3 linked regions of the Homo sapiens genome follow. The protein of the gene in region 3 interacts with the protein of the main gene of each other region in a pairwise test. Each region holds a gene or a part of one and is shown on either strand. Other genes may lie near its edges.

The links.
Region 1: the proteins of SYT16 (region 3) and LDAF1 interact in binary tests that used the Homo sapiens proteins (3 or more experiments, as listed by UniProt).
Region 2: the proteins of SYT16 (region 3) and RER1 interact in binary tests that used the Homo sapiens proteins (3 or more experiments, as listed by UniProt).

What each region holds. Positions count from the first base shown.
Region 1 is NC_000016.10:21,161,632-21,168,753, forward strand, and holds part of LDAF1 (lipid droplet assembly factor 1), read left to right. Parts: intron 1-5,208; coding exon of another isoform or gene 5,209-5,280; intron 5,281-7,122. UniProt on the Homo sapiens protein: Plays an important role in the formation of lipid droplets (LD) which are storage organelles at the center of lipid and energy homeostasis. In association with BSCL2/seipin, defines the sites of LD formation in the endoplasmic reticulum.
Region 2 is NC_000001.11:2,401,719-2,405,936, reverse strand, and holds the end of RER1 (protein RER1), read right to left. Parts: intron 3,731-4,218; coding exon 3,595-3,730; intron 2,903-3,594; coding exon 2,813-2,902; 3' UTR 501-2,812; downstream 1-500. Other genes in the region: PEX10 (peroxisome biogenesis factor 10), read left to right, coding at 103-171. UniProt on the Homo sapiens protein: Involved in the retrieval of endoplasmic reticulum membrane proteins from the early Golgi compartment.
Region 3 is NC_000014.9:62,074,699-62,081,820, reverse strand, and holds part of SYT16 (synaptotagmin-16), read right to left. Parts: intron 6,687-7,122; coding exon 6,430-6,686; intron 988-6,429; coding exon 547-987; intron 1-546. UniProt on the Homo sapiens protein: May be involved in the trafficking and exocytosis of secretory vesicles in non-neuronal tissues. Is Ca(2+)-independent.

The sequences.
Region 1 (7,122 bases), on a different chromosome or scaffold from region 3:
TAGCTGGATAAAGAAGTCTGTGCAACAGATATCATCCTTTTTTTGGTTTTGTTTGGTTTTGTTGTGAATTTTGCCCTATCTGTTACCCTGAAAATGAGAGACAAAAGCCTACTTCAAGATTTGAGTTCATTGTTCCACTAGGAATCCAGGTCCGATAGAAATATGATGTGAGTCACGTATGTAATTTAGAATTTTTCTAGTAGCCACATGTAAGAAGTAAAAAGAAATAGGTAAAATTAATTTTGGCTGGGCATAGTGGCTCCCGCCTGTGATCCTAGCACTTTGGGAGGCTGAGGTGGGTGGATCACTTGAGATCAGAAGTTCGAGATCAGCCTGGCGAACATGGTAAAACCCCATCTCTACTAAAATTACCAAAATGAGCAGGTGTGGTGGTAAGGCCTGTAGTCCCAGCTACTCGGGAGGCTGAGGCAGGAGAATCACTTGAACCCAGGAGGCGGAGGTTGCAGTGAGCTGAGATTGTGCCACCGCACTCCAGCCTGGGCGACAGAGCGAGATTCCGTCTCCAAAAAAAAAAAATTATTTTTAATAATGTTTTTATTCAACCTAAGATATCAAAAATATTTCAACATGTAATCATTTATACAAAATTATTAATGAAAAAAGATTCTTGAAACATTGTACCTTCTTTTTTGAACTCCCTCTTCAAAACCCCCCGTGCGCATATTTTACACTTCTAGCACATTTCAATTCGAGTTAGCCACTTTTTAGGTATTCAGTGGCCACTCAGTGGCAATGAGACTTCAGATAGCGTTATGTTTTCTTGCATATTTATCCTTATTGCTTTCTTCTATATGTCTTTCAGCATTTTGTCAGGGAAAAGAAAACAGCTTTCAGAGATAATACTGTTAACATTTTGTATGTCATTCTAGACCTTTTTTCTATGCAATATACCTATAAAAATACATATGTATATGTAACAAAATGAACTATTTTGTGGTGTATTTTTTTTTGTATTGGATAGCACAGCGGGTCTACTCGAAGAGATGCTTGTTTGCAATCTACAACAATAAATTCTGGACTTGCTCCAGAATTTATTTGGCACTCTTTGTGGATTTACCAAGCTATTTTTAAATTGGACAAGCAGCTTTCTCGCCAGCTGGCGGGGACTCTTGTTATTAAAAGTTAGCTCAGTAAGAAGGGTCCTCCTGCCTGTTCCACATTTACAGCTGATTCTCATTAACCATGGTAGTTACGTTCTATAAAGTTACTGCAGACACTGAATTAGCACATACCAAACCATCGCTCCTAGGGGAAATACAGGATTCAGTTGCTGTGAGCCTCCTGTTCACAACATTTTTGTCAGCTGATCAGTACATAACCTCGTTTTATGTGTATTTCTGTTTAAAGACATGTTAATATATATTGTTGATCATTAACGTTGAACTCAGGGCCAACAACAGTACTATGACTCATGTCTTAAACAAAGCTAATCACACACATGTATTTTCTGCATAAGGCACATCACAGCCTTCTCATGGTTAGGAACGCTAGAGAACACTTCAGCACTACACTTGGGGACCATTTTCAACAGTAAAATCACCAAACTAAAGCATAAACGTGGCACTAAATAGACCACAGTGACACTTGTTTAAAGGATGAAACAGGAAGGCTCGGTGTCACCTTGCTTGACCTCAGCTGGGAATGTACGTGGCAGGTGACTCCACTTTTTGCTGTTGTGGACGTGTCCACTAATGACCTCAAAAGCACTGCAGGCCAGGCGTGGTAGCTCACACCTGTAATCCTAGTACTTTGGGAGGCCGAGGCGGGTGGATCCCTTGAGCCAGAAGTTCAAGACCAGCCTGGCCAACATGATGAAACCCCTTCTCTACGAAAAATACAAAAATTAGCTGGGTGTGGTGGTGTGCGCCTGTAATCCTAGCCTCTTGGGAGGCTGAGGCACGAGAATCGCTTGAACCCAGGAGGTGAAGGTTGAAGGGAGCCAAGATCACACCACTGTACTCCAGCCTGGGTGACAGAGCAAGACTCTATCTCAGACAAAACAAAACAAAACAAAAAGCACTGCCAGTATTCATTTTGAGGTTACAAATAAATTTCAGTGAGGAGGCAAATTTACAAATATGGAATCATGAGTAATAAGGATTGACTGCATATTTCTTGGCACTGACTGTATGCCAAGCACTGCACTAGGCATTCACCCTGGCCCTGTCTGAACTTAGTTAATAGTCACGTTCACCTGCCTTTTTTGTTTGTTTGTTTTTGTATTTTTAGTAGAGACGGGGTTTCTCACCATTTTGGCCACGCTGATCTCCAACTCCTGACCTCAGGCAATCCACCCACTTCGGCCTCCCAAAGTGCTGGGATTATAGGCGTGAGCCACCGCACCTGGCCACCAGTGGTTGTAAATGGTCCTGACCCTTCGTCTTTCTCCTGTTAGGAAGAGATAATGAATCATTGATTGTTTTTTGCATTCTGATACCAGGGAATTTGCCTGGCTCCTGAATCATCCAAGTTTCAGTCTTCATGTTCTCAAATACTGGCCACTTTGTCCCTAGTTTAGAAGCCAACCGCCTTTGTCTGACCTTGGGCAAGTCACTTAGGCTCACTGAATTTCCATCTCCTTTTTTAAAATTTTTTATTTATTTTTTATTGAGACAGAGTCTCACTCTGTCTTCCAGGCTGGAGTATAGTGGTGTGATCATGGCTTACTGTAGCCTCGAACTTCTGGTCTCAAGCAACACCTCCAGCCTCAGCCTCCTGAGTAGCTGGGACTACAGGTGCACACCAGCATACTCAGCTAATGTTTTATTTTATTTTTTGGAGAGACAGCATCTTTCACTGTGTTGCCCAGGCTGGTCTCAAACTCTTGGCCTCAAGCAGTCCTCCTGCCTTGGCCTCCTGAAGTGCTGGGATTACAGAAGTGAGCCACCATGCCCAGCTGCCATCTCCTCTTTTCTAAAATGAGCAATGTCAGGCTCAGAGGTTTGTTATGAAGATTATCTGAGATGCTGTTTGAAGCTTTAGCACAGAGGGTGGCGCATAATGTTGTCAGTCTGTCTCAGCCTGGCCTTCCTGGGCTCTGCAGTGCTGCACTGTGCTTACAGAGCCTAGATTGGGTAACCTGTGTCTACCTCCAGGCTGGTGATGGAAAATCACAGTGCATGTTACTGAATAATAACCTCTCCCACTTTCCATCTTTCCATTGCATCCCCCTCTGTTGCCATGAGAATGAAATGTTAATTGCTACGTTCTACCCCCCTGAGTTTAAATAGTGTTAGGTCGTTCTTTTTTACCTACCTCGTAGCATTGTAGGAAGAAATAAATGAGGAAATAATACGAGAGGTGCTTAAAGCAGTGCCCAGCACCTGAGTGTTTAATGAATGTTCTCTGTTATTATTAGGTGTGGTTGAATCGTGTCCTCCCCTCCTGGGACAGACTGGCTGGAGCTCAGCTGTACTTCCTGGGAGAAGACAATTTCTGGGTTTAATCATCTGAATCTTGGTCTCTTTGCATATCTAAATGACTTTCTCTTTGATTATAGAGCCCAGACTCGGAAAAGACTAAGAATGGCGGGGCATGGTGGCTGATGCTTATAATCCTAGCACTTCGGGAGGCCGAGGCGGGCAGATCACTTGAGGTCAGGAGTTCGAGACTAGCCTGGCCAACATGGTGAAACCCCATCTCTACTAAAAAATATAAATATTAGCTGGAAATCGCCTGAACCTGGGAAGCGGAAGTTGCAGTGAGCCGAGATCATGCCATTGCACTCTAGCCTGGGCAATAGAGTGAGATTCCATCTCAAAAAAACAAAAGGCTAAGAAAAAGGTGGATTCCTTAAGGACTGAAGTGGAACAGTCTTGCCTGTTTCCTTTTATATCCCTGTGCCATACAGTCCCTAAGTCCTGTGTATTCCTTCTTTTGTCATTCCACTTTCATACCCATCTACCCCTCCCCCTTCTCTTCCCTCTCTGCCATCAGCCTGGACTTGACCACAGTATATCTTGCCTGATTTCCTGCAAATCTTTCTACCTGCCTCTTGCACATGATTGCTAGGTTCATATTTCTTAAATCATTCCTTTAATCATGTCATAGTTCTGCTCAAATGACAGCAGTTTGTTCCCTGTTTTTTTTTTCCCAGATGAAATTTAAATGAGTGCTGTCTAGCAGAAATATTATGTGAGCCACATATATAATTTTAAGTTTTTTAATAATTACATTAAAAACAAAAAGAAACAAATGAGATTAATTTTATTTATTTATTTATCTTGAGATGGAGTCTCGCTCTGTCGCCCAGGCTGGAGTACAGTGGCGTGATCTCGGCTCACTGCAACCTCTGACTCCCGGGTTCAAGTGATTCTCCCGCCTCAGCCTCCCAAGTAGCTAGGATTACAGGCACGCACCACTCTGCCTGACTAATTTTTTTGTATTTTTACTAGAGACGGGGTTTCACCATGTTGACCAGGCTGGTCTTAAGCTCCAGATCTTAAGTAATCTGCCCACCTCAGCCTCCCAAAGTGCTGGGATTACAGGTGTGAGCCACCGTGCCCAGCCAGAGATTAATTTTAATAATATATTCTCAATTTAACACAATATATCCAAAACACTATAATTTCAACAGGTAATATAAAAAAGTATTAATGAGATATTTTGCATTTTTTTTTCTTACACTTAAAGCACATCTCAATTCTGATGCCAAATTTTCATTGGAAATATTTAATCTCTATTCAGATTTTATAAAACTTACAATTCAGCGAAATAGATTCACATACCCAACCTATTGGAAACATACTTAAAATTTTTCCAACAACTGAATCAAGTCTCAGCTTTAAAATTTAAATTAAATTAAATTGGAAATCCAGGCCATCAGTCACAGGAGGAGCATTTCAAGTGCTGAATGGCGCAGGTGGCCTGTGATGGACAGCCCGGGGATAAGCTAGCAAGCCCAGTGTCCTGGTGTCCCAGCCTCACAAGTTCCTTCCGCTGCACAGCCCTTCCCTCGCTGGCGCAGCATACTCACGGGTGTACTGCTGCCTCCCTTTCCTGGAGAGCCCATCTGCTCTCCCCACTGTGGTTCTTTGGATTGTAAAGATCAGGTGACACAGGGAGCATCAAATAAGGATGCATGTGGATTCGAACTGGAAAGAAGTCAGGACCTGAGACAGCGCAAGGGACCAGCCCACATTCTGTGTGGTGACTCCCACGGCTCCTCCGCCTCTCTTTCTCTTTCAGCTGCCCCAACACAGCAGGATCTCACTGGACTCTGATGATGGAGTGTCCAGGCTGGGCAGTGCTGGCTCCAAGGTGATTCCTGCTACAGTCATCTCTGGCTAGAGAAGCGGAATAGCAAGCTCTTTGGTGGCTTTTGTCAGAATGGTGGGGTAGCAGGAGGCAGTGAGGTCAGCGGGCATTATGCCGTCCTGTGGCCTGGCAGGGAGTGAAATTGGCCATGCCTCGAGAGTAATCCTTAGGAGACCACGCTGAAGCCCAAGACCAATGGCTGTGGCTTCTTGGCATGGCCTCTTTTATTTAAGCAGGGTGCAGCTTGCACTTTAGTTCCTTCAGCATGAACCACAAACCCCTCCTGCCTTCCAACTCGCCCTGAAAATCCCACTGTTTAAACCACTTGGGTAAACTCTTCTTCCTAGGAGGCACATGTGTTTTGGGGACCTGAATTATGTCTTCTTTTCATCTGTTGGCCTGCAAGGCCGTAGGGATGAGGCTCAGGAAGGACCAGTTATGATGGAAGGAGGTTCTGGAATAATGGTTCCTTTCAAGTGAACAGGATCTAGAATACCAGTACTGAGGAGAGAGAAGGCGTGGAGCCTAAGGAGGAGAGGGGGAAACCCATCTTTGCGGATTTGCCTATGGCCAGCTCTGCGTTAAAGCAGTCTCCCTCCATTGAGTCAGATCGAAAATTCCTTTTTGCCCGGTGAAGGAAAATAAACTATTAACACAACATAAACTTGCATTAGTCACAGGCTGTGGCCAACTATGGTAACCAGGTTGATGACATAAAAGCATTTTTACTTGATGTGGTGGCAGCTGTTGCAAGCATTGGACATTCTGAGTCCAAGACCTTAGGTTTGTTTTTTTTTTTTTGAAAAGGAGACTTGCGGTGGGGCGCGGTATCCCACGCCTGTAATCTCAGCACTTTGGGAGGCCAAGGCGGGTGGATCGCCTGAGGTCAGGAATTCGAGACCAGCCTGGACAATATAGTGAAACCCTGTCTCTACTAAAAATACAAAACTTAGCTGGGCGTGGTGGGGGCGCCCGTAATCCCAGCTACTCGGGAGGCTGAGGCGGGAGAATGGCTTGAACCCGGGAGGCGGAGGTTGCAGTGAGCCGAGATCTTGCCATTGCACTCCAGCCTGGGCGACAAGAGCAAAACTCCATCTCAAAAAAAAAAAAAGAAAGAAAGAAAAGAAAAGGAGACTTGCTCTGTCATCCAGGCTGGAGTGCAATGGCGCCATCTTGGCTCACTGCAACCTCCGCCTTCCAGGCTCAAACGATTCTCGTGCCTCAGCCTCCCTAGTAGCTGGGACTACCAGCACGCGCCACCATGCCTGGCTGATTTTTGTATGTTTAAAAGAGACAGGGTTTCACCATGTTAGCCAGGCTGTTCTTGAACTCCTGACCTCAGGTGACCCGCCTGCCTCCACCTCCCAAAGTGCTGGGATTACAGGTATGAGCCACCATGCTGGCCAGGCCTTAGCTTTTAATGCTGAGATTTTGCCACTTGGAGGCTGTGCGACTCTAGACAAGTGATTAGCTTTTAATGCTGAGCTTAGCTTTTAATAGACAAGTGAATAGACAAGTGATTAGCTTTTAATGCTTACTAATAGACAAGTGATTAGCTTTTAATGCTTAATAATGCTTTTAATAATAATGCTTTTAATAATTATAATTATAATAAATAATATATAAATAATATAATACATATTATAATTATATACATATATAAATATAATATATTTATATAATATATAATAATGCTATATGAATATTGATAACTAATATTAGTATAATATATCTAATATAATTATACAATATTATAATTATGATTTTTATATTACATTACAATTATATTTTTATATATAATTATATATATATTTTTAATATTATATTATATTTTTATTTTATATA
Region 2 (4,218 bases), on a different chromosome or scaffold from region 3:
GTGTGTCATGTGCAGAGAATGTGGACAGGAAAAGAAATGCCGATGGGGATGGGCATGGCCCAGTGGCCCCAGCTGCTGTGACCCCCTTTCTCCTCTCCGCAGGCGGAGTGTCCCCTCTGCCGGGAGAAGTTCCCTCCCCAGAAGCTCATCTACCTTCGGCACTACCGCTGAGCCGGCGCCCGGGTGGGCCTGGACACAGATGACCTCTACGGGAGTCTGAACGCCAAGATTTAGTCTCAGGATTAACCTTGCTTGCACAGAAGTTAGAACACTCTCAGTTTTTTGTCATGTAAGATACTAACCTAGCCACCCTGGGAGAGAACAGAAAGCTGTCCCTGGCTGCGCTTTCTCAGCCCTGGGAGGGGCGCCTGAACCCAGAACATTTCCCTAACCCCAACCTGGTAGGACTCAGCCACTTCTTCAGGAATTTCACTTATTTGGACGGGATTTTAGGTTTCCCTCCCTTCCCCAAACCATACAGTTGAGAAGTAATTCAGAAGTAGGCCAGAAGACACTTTATTCGTTTATATTGTGAGAAAACAGCCCCATCAGGCTTGTGTTAAGGCAATGGACTGAATGAGTGCGTGCTGGGTGGGGTGGGGCACGGAGGCTGGCGGGTTGCTTCAGCCAGTGCAGTGAGAACAGCAGCCCCACGGCCCCATGGGAGGCGGCGCTGCTCTCCCCGAGGGCGGCTGGGCAGAGCACATCCCCCAGGACTTGATGACCACACGGGGCAGAGAGAAACCAACCAAGGCCAGCACCTCCGTCGGAAGCATTTGGCACACACACCTTCAATACACGTCAAGGTCGCTTCCAGTTTTAGAAAACAGAAATCTGCATCTCAGCCTGAGACGCACAGAGAGGTCTCTTCCTGACCCAGACGCACTCACGAGCCAGGTCCTGGGGGTATGGGGGCTGCCAGGGGCGCCCGAGCCCTCTCCTGGGGGGCCTGCTGGGCAGGCGACCTGCTGACCCACGGTCACTGCTGTGTTCAGCCCCTCAGCTCGGCCCCAGCCTATTTCCCGCCTCCATTTGATGTTTCCAGGTTTTCAAAACTGCATTTAACCTGCGCCAGAGAGTTCACCGTAGGCATCTTTAATAAACTAACTCCAGCAAAATGTGGGTACGTTACTAACACAAGATGGAACTTGAGATTTCCTGAAGCGCAGTGTTAAAATGCCTCGAGGGCGTGTGCCACATTTCCCTGCTGACGTAAAACACCTGGCCAGCAGGACCGGCTTCCGGCAAAGACCCGCGCAAACCATGTCTTGCTGTTTGACTTACTTAGGAATGAGGATGACCCTGTATTCCTGGGTTAGTCAAGGTCAGCTTGCCAGAGACGGAGGAGGGCGGGGGGGCCGTGACCCTCTAGACTGGGAGGACCACCAGGAGAGGCACTGGGGGCTGCGGCCGGGTGGGCAGATGCCGCCGTGGCTCCATCCATCAGCACCCAGTCCTTTGCTTCACTGTGCTCTGGCCAAGCGCGTGCGACTTCCTGTCACACCTTAGGCCTGAGCGCTTATTAAGAAAACAGTATGAAAAATGACAAACACTCCTGTCCACAGTCTGAGAATCCCAAGTGTCTCAACACGGTACCAGAAGTACCACCTGGGAGCAGCACTGGCTATCTTGGGTCAGGGACACACAAGCTTGAACGTGGCCTCTTAGAGGAGCTCGATGTCAGATATGTAAACACTGGTACAAGAAAATCCAGACACTAAGCATTCACCGTGTCAATTCTGAGACAGGAAACACCGCCCAGAGTGAGGAGCCTGCGCAGCCCGGGGCCCAGGAGGAGAGGCCTTCACTCGCATGTCAGTGTCTCATCTGGGACCACAGCTGTGATGTTCTGCTGTGCAATATGGGTCACCTTTCGAAAAGGCCAAACAAAAGGTGGGCTTTCCTGTGTCCAGCGACTGCCATGTTTTAGGTAAAGACTTTAGTAAAGGTGGAGGTAAAATCACTTGGTAAAACGTTGAGAGTATTTCTTTTCTCGAATCAAAAACGCTGACATGCAAGTGGGTTCCGCCTCTCCCGCAGTGGGGGGCCGAGTGCTGAACCTACAAAGCCAGTCTGCTCCCTGCCAGCTTCGCTGCCCCTCATGGAGGGTTGCATGAGGACAGATTTAAATTAAAAACAAAACACTCTACGTATCAAAGAAATGTGTCAAAATAATCTCAAACAATTAAAATATAATATATATTTATAATTCCGGGCCCTCAAAAGCAATCATGGTAGTTAAGAACCAAGTTTTGAGTCATTAGGATAGAGGCCAACTTTAAACATCTCCAGTGAGATGGAATTAGGAAACTGGCATTAGAACCCCACACAGTTACTTGACAATCACCTTTAAAACGTTAAGTTCTTTCGGACACGCAGGAATCAGGCTAGATCATCCCTCGGGCTCTGTGGAGTGGCTGGCACCACCTGCGGCTGCTGGGGAAGGCGGCTGGCGGGGAGCGGCCCGTTCCTCCCTCGCAGGCCTTGCTCCTGCCTGCCCACCTGGCACAGCGGGGACCGGCCACTCGCCCTTGCTCCCATGGGCTCCACCCGCCTGGCTTCCCGCCTGCAGCTGACTAGAATTCCATCCGTGAGAAACACTTGAACGTCACTGAAAAAGAAATCCATGCGATTTGGTTTAAGCGCCAGTTTCTTCTAGAACCTGATATTTCAGTTACAAATCATTGAAGCTCCTTTTTAAAAAGAAAATTTGACTCCCTCGTAATCAACTACTTTATGTGAAGAAAAAAGGCATTGTTAACAATGGCTCAAAACTGTTCTTGCAACACGTGAGGCAGCCTCAGTCCCGCTTCTAGCTGGCGAAGGCCTTGCCGGCATCCTCCTTGCCTCTGTACCTTCTCTTCCCATGTGTGAACGGGATGTACCGGTACTTAATCATGTGCTGGGGAGAGAAACACAGACTCAGTTACTGCACAACCGCTCTCCAGTCAGTCACACTGTCCCCAAATCTGAGCGGCCAAAGGTCCCCCATCTTTTCTATACATCAGACAAGTGGAATCGGAGCCCCAGTGGCTTCCTGCGCCCACATCAACACAGCAAGACCTTCCACAGCCCACGAGGCCTAGGTTTGAAACCCCATCAATCCCAGTGCTTCGTGAGCCTCCCGTGGAGGAAGGGCAAGGGGGATGTGAGGTGGCCCAGGGCCCTCTCTGCAGCCAACACCCCGGGCACAGAGTGAGGCCCGCAGCACGAAGGCCACACCGTCAAGGGCACAGTCCGCAGTCTCGGCTAACTTCCCCCTAACACCCTCCTCCTCGGGCAGGCTGGCGCGGGGCACTGGGCACCCTAAGAGGAGCCACCGGGACACTGCACTCGCCGGGGCTCTCCCACCCGGCTTCCACAAAGTTTCCACCAAGAGCCCGCCCGCTCCCACAGCTGCGCTCCCCGTTTAGTTAGCCGGCCGTGCTGGGAACGGAGCAGTGTCCTCGTCACACACAAGACGGTGCCACTTAGCTCCACATTCACACCAGGCAGACTCTGCCACCACCCACCACAGCCCAGCACAGCTCCCCCAATGCTGCGGGTAACAGAACAGCGATTGCGGCCGGCGTGGCGGCAGCGCCTCTGCTTTACCTTGATTTGCCTCTTCATCGTGATACAGAAGAGCATGATGAAGTACATCACCAGAATCGGCCAGAACACCGGGACGTTGAAAGCGTCGAAGAAAGTACAGACCATAGCCACAAGGATGCCCTTGGTAGCCGCATGCCTTCAAGTGGGGAGAGAAGGTTAGCGCCGCATCTGCAGCCAGCACCGGGCACCTGCCGGCCGCCTCCAGCCTTGCAGCTGCACCGACCGTCCCCGCAAACAGAAGCATCCCTGTGGAAAGGAGGGGTCTACCCTGGGCACAGCAGCAGCAGGACCCTTTGCATGTAGCTCACAGACATGTACTGCCCTAACCACAGAAACATCCTTCTCTTACTCCCTTGAAAGACACAATTCTTCTTAAAACTACACAAAGTATAAAGCATCAGTACTGAGGCTGGGGGCCCCATGCCTGCTGGCTGGGCCTGCGATCTGGAGAGAAACCCAGGCTGTGTCTTGTGGACCATCCAGGGCCTTCACCTTGTCACTGTGGCATGGCCACCAGTGCTCCCTCCCGTCCCAGCACATGGCCAACAGATGCCACGGCCCTGGAGGCTCAGCTCTCCCTTCCTAGTCCAAGCTTCTGGTGGCTTCCAGGGCCCCTGATCTTTC
Region 3 (7,122 bases):
AGCAGTAGTGAGCTGCCCATCCTGTAGGCATGTAAATTATGACACCTTTCCTTGAAACCCTGTGGCAAGCAGGGAAATGGGGTATGAGGGAAGACGGTAGTAACACAAATGAAAGGTTTCAGAAGCAGCTGAAGTTCTGGGCTGCTCTCTCAGTCTGCCCCAGCATACCCGTTAAGAACCTTGCCCAGAAAGTCCCATCTCTGAGATTCATCATGATGCAGATTGGGGGCAGGAGGAGTAGGATCAGTTATCCACAATCCAGAGGGCCAAGCCACCTTCCCTGTTTTTCTCCATGCCCTCTACCACACTGCTGCTATTTTGTCCTAAAATGGACAGGGCATTTATCCATCAGGTTATCAGGAAGACAGGCATGAAAGACCCATTGTACCATGAAGTGCAAATCATGGCTTACAAGGGTGAGGAGAGCCAAATGGAAAATTAAATTAAAGTCTCTGAATTCACAGACTGAACGTACTAAATCAAGGGCTGACAATCCCAGGTCTTCGAACACACCACATCATTAGCAGCACCATTTAACATACTCACGCTTATATTACTTCTTGGCTCCAGAACCAGAGTCACTTTCATTTCCCCTTCTGGGTGCAGGTGGCTGAGATAGAATAGTTTCTCTCCCATCATTCTCTCTCGGGTCATCTTCCGGGCAGCGTACAGGCGGAAGCGGACAGCACAGGCAGCCACATCTCTGGGCTCCAGCTTGGCAAAGGTGACCTTCTCCCTGAAGACGGGGTTGGGCCCTCTCTGTATGTTCGTCCTGCCCCTGTGTTTCTTACCAGGCAGCAGCACTACATGAACTTGCCAGGAGTTGACACCACTTCGGTCCTTATCTGGGAGGCCCTGTGCCCTCACAATGGTCACTGTGAGCTTCTGGCTGGCGGCTCTATATTCAAAGATGACATCTAGGTCACCACACTTTGAGATGGGCTCTGAGACCCCGGATGGCACCTGCAAATTGGTCCTGTCCTGTTCCTGTTGCAGGCAGAGGAAACAATTAGAAATGGAAATGATGATACCCAATTACATTTTGGCCAGTTGGTGCCCCTTTGTGCTCCTTCAGAATCCCTGCTTTCTAACTGCCAGTGTATTCCCTCTATATCAGATAGGTCTGTTTACTGGTCTATCGCTGCATTAAACTGTGAATTCTTTGACGGCAAAGTGCCTAGCATATGGTGCGCCTTCGTGAATGTTTTTGGAATGGATAACTAAAGCTTTTATATTTTTGCAAAGTGTTTTCATATATACTGCCTCTCAAAAAGCACAATTGCCCAGGATCATTGAAACCAACTGAGATGCTAAATCTAAAATTAAGTCAACAGGCAATTGTCCATAGGCAACTTTTCCTTGTGTCCCTAAATACAGATGGTTGAGCCTGAGCCTGTTCTCCACAGGCAAGAGCTTTCTACAGACAAGAATTTTGATGGGAGTCCCAGGAAGGTGATGCTTCAGTATATTTTCAATCTAAGTGGGAGAAAAGGTTTAGGGCTGAGCTTCTCAAACTTTAATGTAGACCTAAATCATCTGAGGATTCTGATTCAGTAGGTCTGGAGTGGAGCTTGAGATCCTGCCATTTCTGGGACAGGCACAAGGGATGTTGACGCTGCTAGCCTCGGCTCACACTTTGAGCAGCAAGGATTTAGGAGGACACCTCCACAGCCCTTTAGTAAACAGCAACACTGAGCCTGGAGCCAGAACACCTAAATTGAAATCATAACTCTACCACTGACTAGCTTTTTTACCCTGGCCAAATAGACCAGCCTCTCGGTAGTCTAGCTTAAAAATGCACATTAATGTGCCTACTTGCTGGTGTGTTGTTGTGAGGTTTTCATTGATATGAAAATACCTGGCTTAGACCAGACTGCATAAATATCTATTCCCACCACTGGACTGGTGCTACCTATTCTCAAACACACATCCCTCTTTATGGAATGTCACCCTTGGGTAGCAATTTACATGCAGCCACTCAGATCTGATGACCTTACTGGGAAAACTGAGCTAGGCTGCATTTATTATAATGAACCACCCCACTAACAAATTATAAATAATGTCAATAATAATTCTATTTTCCTCTGAAGGCATGATCCTTACCTGTAACTAAACTTTGATCTGATTCTTATTGCAAACCAGTTCTTATTTATGCAATTGAACACCAGAACTTGCTAATTTAGAGATCTCGTTTCAAATTATAATACAATGCCTCAAAATGTGCATCCATCAATGAAACTTTCCCACATAGTCTGGGTGAAAGTTCATGGTTCTCTGGGTTCGTATTTCCTTAGGAAGCCCAGGCCTACCACTTACTAGCTCTATGACACTGGGCAAGTCATTTAATCCTTTCCATGTTCTATTTTCCTCAACTGTAAAATGGAGATGGTACCTTCTGTGTAGGGATGTTGTAAAAAGTAGAGGACTTGACAGACAGTAGACATCTAATAAATATCCTTTTCTTTTAAGATTCAAATTAGCCTGCAAGAAAATTTAGATTTCTTGTAAAATAAGTGAAGCTTCTTATATCCTTTCCTGTGAGCATGCAATCATGCGTGAGTGTTTCTATTCAGAGGTACTTAGTTTCAAGTGATAAAAGTGGTTGCTATAGAGACTTTTGAATACAACTGACTAGTGTATATATATTAGAAGCAAGTCTCCAAGGATTTAGGCCAACTCAAAAATCAAGTCAGAATCTTCTCTCAAACTCCCTTGTCTCTTCCTAAAACTCCCATCTATTTTAGCCTACTCTTGATCATCTCTGTATTGCATTTCTGACCATAAGTAATAATAGCTAACATCTACTAAACTATTTCTTATGCCAAATACCATATCAAATCCTTTACAGACTATAAAAATTGGCTCTTAAACACTTCAGATCTTCTTGGCCTTAACTCATGTTCCATCTTCCCCTAAGGCACAGCCTATATGGGCTCTAAGTAGTTTCAGCCTGGAACTACTCAATAAAGTCTTACCTTCTACCCACACAATATAATTCTCATTTCTTATCATTGGTCTCTCTGTCGACCGCCAAGGCTTAGACAGCTGCAGAACCCTGCTTGACACCAATATATGTGAAGTCTACTTTTTGCCCCGTAGTCAGTTGTCCTATCAGTTCATACAGCTTCTTGGAGTGTGATCACACAAGATCAGGCAATTAGCCATACTGAGTGGTGGCCAATTCAACTGTGTATTCTCACACTTGACCTCCCTTCTTCCCTGCCTTACTTCCCTTGTCTCGCACTTTTGTTCCCTGGGGTTGCACTCCCAAAGCAGGGAACAAAGCCTTTACGTAGGCTCTGCTTTTTTGAGGAACCCAACTAAGAAACATTATCTTTTTGAATATTTACATCAATGCAATGAGGTAGGTATTTTAATATCTTCATTTTATGGAGGACGAAACTCAAGCTTAGAAAGACTAAATAACTAACACGCTCTCTCCCCCCAAGCCCAGATCAAATTCCCAGACAAGATTATCCAGGACTCATGCCCTGGCAGTTTGAGTCCCAGGCCTGCCTTAACTCGTATCCAATACTCAAAATTTCAAACCTTATTTTGAAACATACAGTCTCCTTTCTTCTTCCCCAAACCTTTAGGCATAACTATTTCTACATATAGACATATGTGTGTGTGTGTGTGTGTGTGTGTTTATATATATATATATAGAGAGAGAGAGAGAGAGCGAGAGAGCACTAGAGAGAGAGAGAGAGAGAGCAAGCGCACAAGATGAAGGGGGAGAAGACGGAAGGTGGGGGTTGGAATCACACTCTCTGTGGTTTTCACATCCTTTGAGGCCCCTGCTCTTAATGTTAGTTAATAGCTCTTAGTTTTGTCAACTTCAATGCCAAGGTAAAAATATTTTAGTGAATGAGGAGCTCTCTCCACTTATGTATCAGGCTGTCTCTTCGGATAAATGCTCACTCCACCTGCAGGTTTCTAAGAGAGTCCTGGGTAGAGCTCCTGACTGTCCTAAGAACTCCTCTGAATAAACAGATCCTGCCAATGGCTGGGCTTTGGATAGGCCAATTCAAGCTGTGGCCCATGAAAACTGGGCTTTGTAGCCCCTCCCTGGGTTGATTTGAGAAAAAGATTTGTGAATGCTGGTATTTTCATAGCAATTAATTATTTCAACACACTTTACCTCTCACCAGGCAACTGAAGGAGCTCCTCACTTGGGTACTGTTAATACCACTAATCCATCTGACCTTCCTGCAAGGTAAAAATCTCTTCATTCTTATCCCCATTTGGCAGATTTTAATTAACTTCTCAAGGCCAACCAATTAATCAGTGGAAAGCAGAGATGAAAAGTGGGACACCTGTCTCCCTGTGTGCTCAAAATCACCAGCCACACTCCCATTGTCTTTCCTGCCAAGCCCTGGGTCTGCAGGAAAAAGCCAAAGGCCTTCGCCAGCAGAGAAGAGCAGAGCTCGAAAATCCATCAGCCTAACAGGTAGTCACACTGCACGACCAGTTTCCTGCTGAGACAAAATAAATGATTCCTTGAGCTCCAATATCCTGGGCTTTTCCTTAAGATGAGAATACTTGTGTCAAATTGTCAAAACCCAGGTAGGTTTAAAGATTTTCTGTCAAATTGAAAGCCTTTCTGTTTTAGTAAGATAGTGTTGATGTCATCTGTGTGGCCTAAAGTAAACAGGCCTACAATATGTTCCTGATGCCAGATACACAGGGGAAGACAGAGTTCTCAATACAGCTAAGAGGCAAATAAATCATTTCTTAAAAGGCAAGCTAAGCCTGCAAAGCAGGCAGTTACGGGAACTGCCTCCGAGTTGGATTTGAGGTTCTACTGTAGGAGCACCAAATTACAGTTTTTTCTCAAAATAGATAGGAGGTTGAATGGAGCACACAGAGATGTCTGGGTATTTTTGGAGTCTGAGAACATTTAGTACCCTCAATACCGAGTCTTCTATTAAAGCTCCAGCAGGCAGGTAAATGGGAGGTGACCTGGAGAAGTCACTTCCAAGCCTCATGGCACAATCACCAAGGAGACAGAGTATCAATAGGCAGGCAAATCATTTGGTCTGTTTTGTTTTTGGGAGAGAGATTCAAAATATTTTTTAAGAGTTAGTGTGTGGGATTTGATACGGCTTGGTAGTAAACTAACGGGTAAGCAGAGTTTTTTCTTTTTTTAAACAAAATGTATAAAGTTAATGGCTTTGGGTGCCTCCATATGAAGGGCTGCTTTTTAACAAGCCACAAACCACATATGTGAGCTACCATTTCTGGTCCTCAGCAGAGACATCTACACAGGGGCACAGATGTGTATGCATACCCCTCCTTAGATACTACCTACACACGCCAACATGTTAGCAGTTAAGGCTTGGAAACAGGGTTTTCTGTGATTCCTTTTTTTTTTTTTACCTTGAGCATTTAGCGTGTGTGACACTCCAAGTCCTAATAAGAGATGCATCCTGTTTATTTTCTCAAATGGATGCTAATAAAATCCATTCACCTCTCTCCTTCTTCCCCCATCCCTGCAAATTATATTAAAGGTTTATATATGTATATGACTTATTTCATCAAAATTAATTTCAAATTAGGTATTAAACACCATTCCTTAATGCCTTCCAATGTCACAGAATCATGATAGGAGGGATCTATCTAATGGAAAAATAACCGTAAGGGCCAGTAAAAGGAAACAATTTGGTAAAATCCTTATCACAGTGCCTGGCATATATTAACTGCTCAATAAATGGTAGCTACTACCATCATCACCTCCAGCCATATCTCTGGATTGATTGTTACATTTATTCTGGACTAAGCTTTACTTGAAAAAGAACTTTGGAAGAAGTATCTTTTATCAGAGATTTACTACAAAACCAATGTCAATGGCCAGAGGGGCATTACTGATTAATGCTGTCTCCTAGGCACAAAATATATTTTGTATATATTCACAGTGCAAGATCTGCATCATTACACCTTGTATAATTTCACTTGGAAGGCCATTTCATTTTAGTTCAATTTTCAAATAATTTTCATATCAAATAATCGTAACTTGAGATTTGGGCTAAATAAAAATAGACTCCACTTAATTGAAACCATGAAGTAAATAAACCAGTCCCTCTAAAGAACTGAAAATTCCATTATTTAAAATTAAGTCTATAAAAAGCCTTTATATAAAAGAAAAGCCTGGCTGTTCCTGGATCCATTCTGCCACCATTCTTATTTTTTTTTCTTTTTTTCTTTTTTTTTTTTTTTACCGTTCATCCTTTTTTTTCCATTTTGAGAGAAATTTATGACTCTTTTATTGACATGCATGGGATTTTGGTCATCTGGACAAAAATTTATTGCAGATAAAAGTAATGCTTCCTTTCTGGAATTTTTTTTTTTTTTTAGAGAGATGAGAAAGGAGAGTGGAAAGAGGGGAAGGGGAAAGGGAACCAATGAAAGAATGAAAAACAAATAACTTGCCTCTGGACTCCACATGGAGGAGCTGTCAGTGGCATAGGAATCTTCAAATCCCCGGCTATTAAAAGCTGTCTCCATCTCCAAGCTGCCCTCTGTGGATTGGCGCCTGAGGCTTTGGACCACACTGGACTCTTGGTGAGATGTGCCGTGGTGTTTGGCATCCCCTCTTTCACATGGGGACTGTGAGTGAGCAGGGATGTGGTCATCTTCACCGTAGGAGAGATTCTCAGAATAACGCCGTTGGCTGGCTCCATCCAAATCTAAATTTGCAATAAGAAAACCATTTCAAATGCATTATTTTTAACACCTTTTTACCTAGAGAAATTGAGTAATTGCAGTCACAACAATCAAGATTGCAGAAACAGAACCCATACCAATAATACCTGCAGAAACATAATTCTATCCATACAGTGAAGAAACTTGATCCATAAAATGAAAAAGAACATTATCTCATTATGTGGCGTATCAGAAGGCTTAATACTTTTTAAATATGAGTGTAGAGAATATATATTTATGTCAAAAGGATAAAATCGACACAGCATTTTGCTGGAGCTAATGACCACAAGACTTCTGCAATGGATCTAAAAGCAAAAAGAGTCATCTAATATGGAGATCGTATGGTCTCCCGACTCTACCATGCTTCCTTTCCTCTTCAGTGTTTACCACATTACCCTCTGCTCAAAAAGCTTTGGTGAT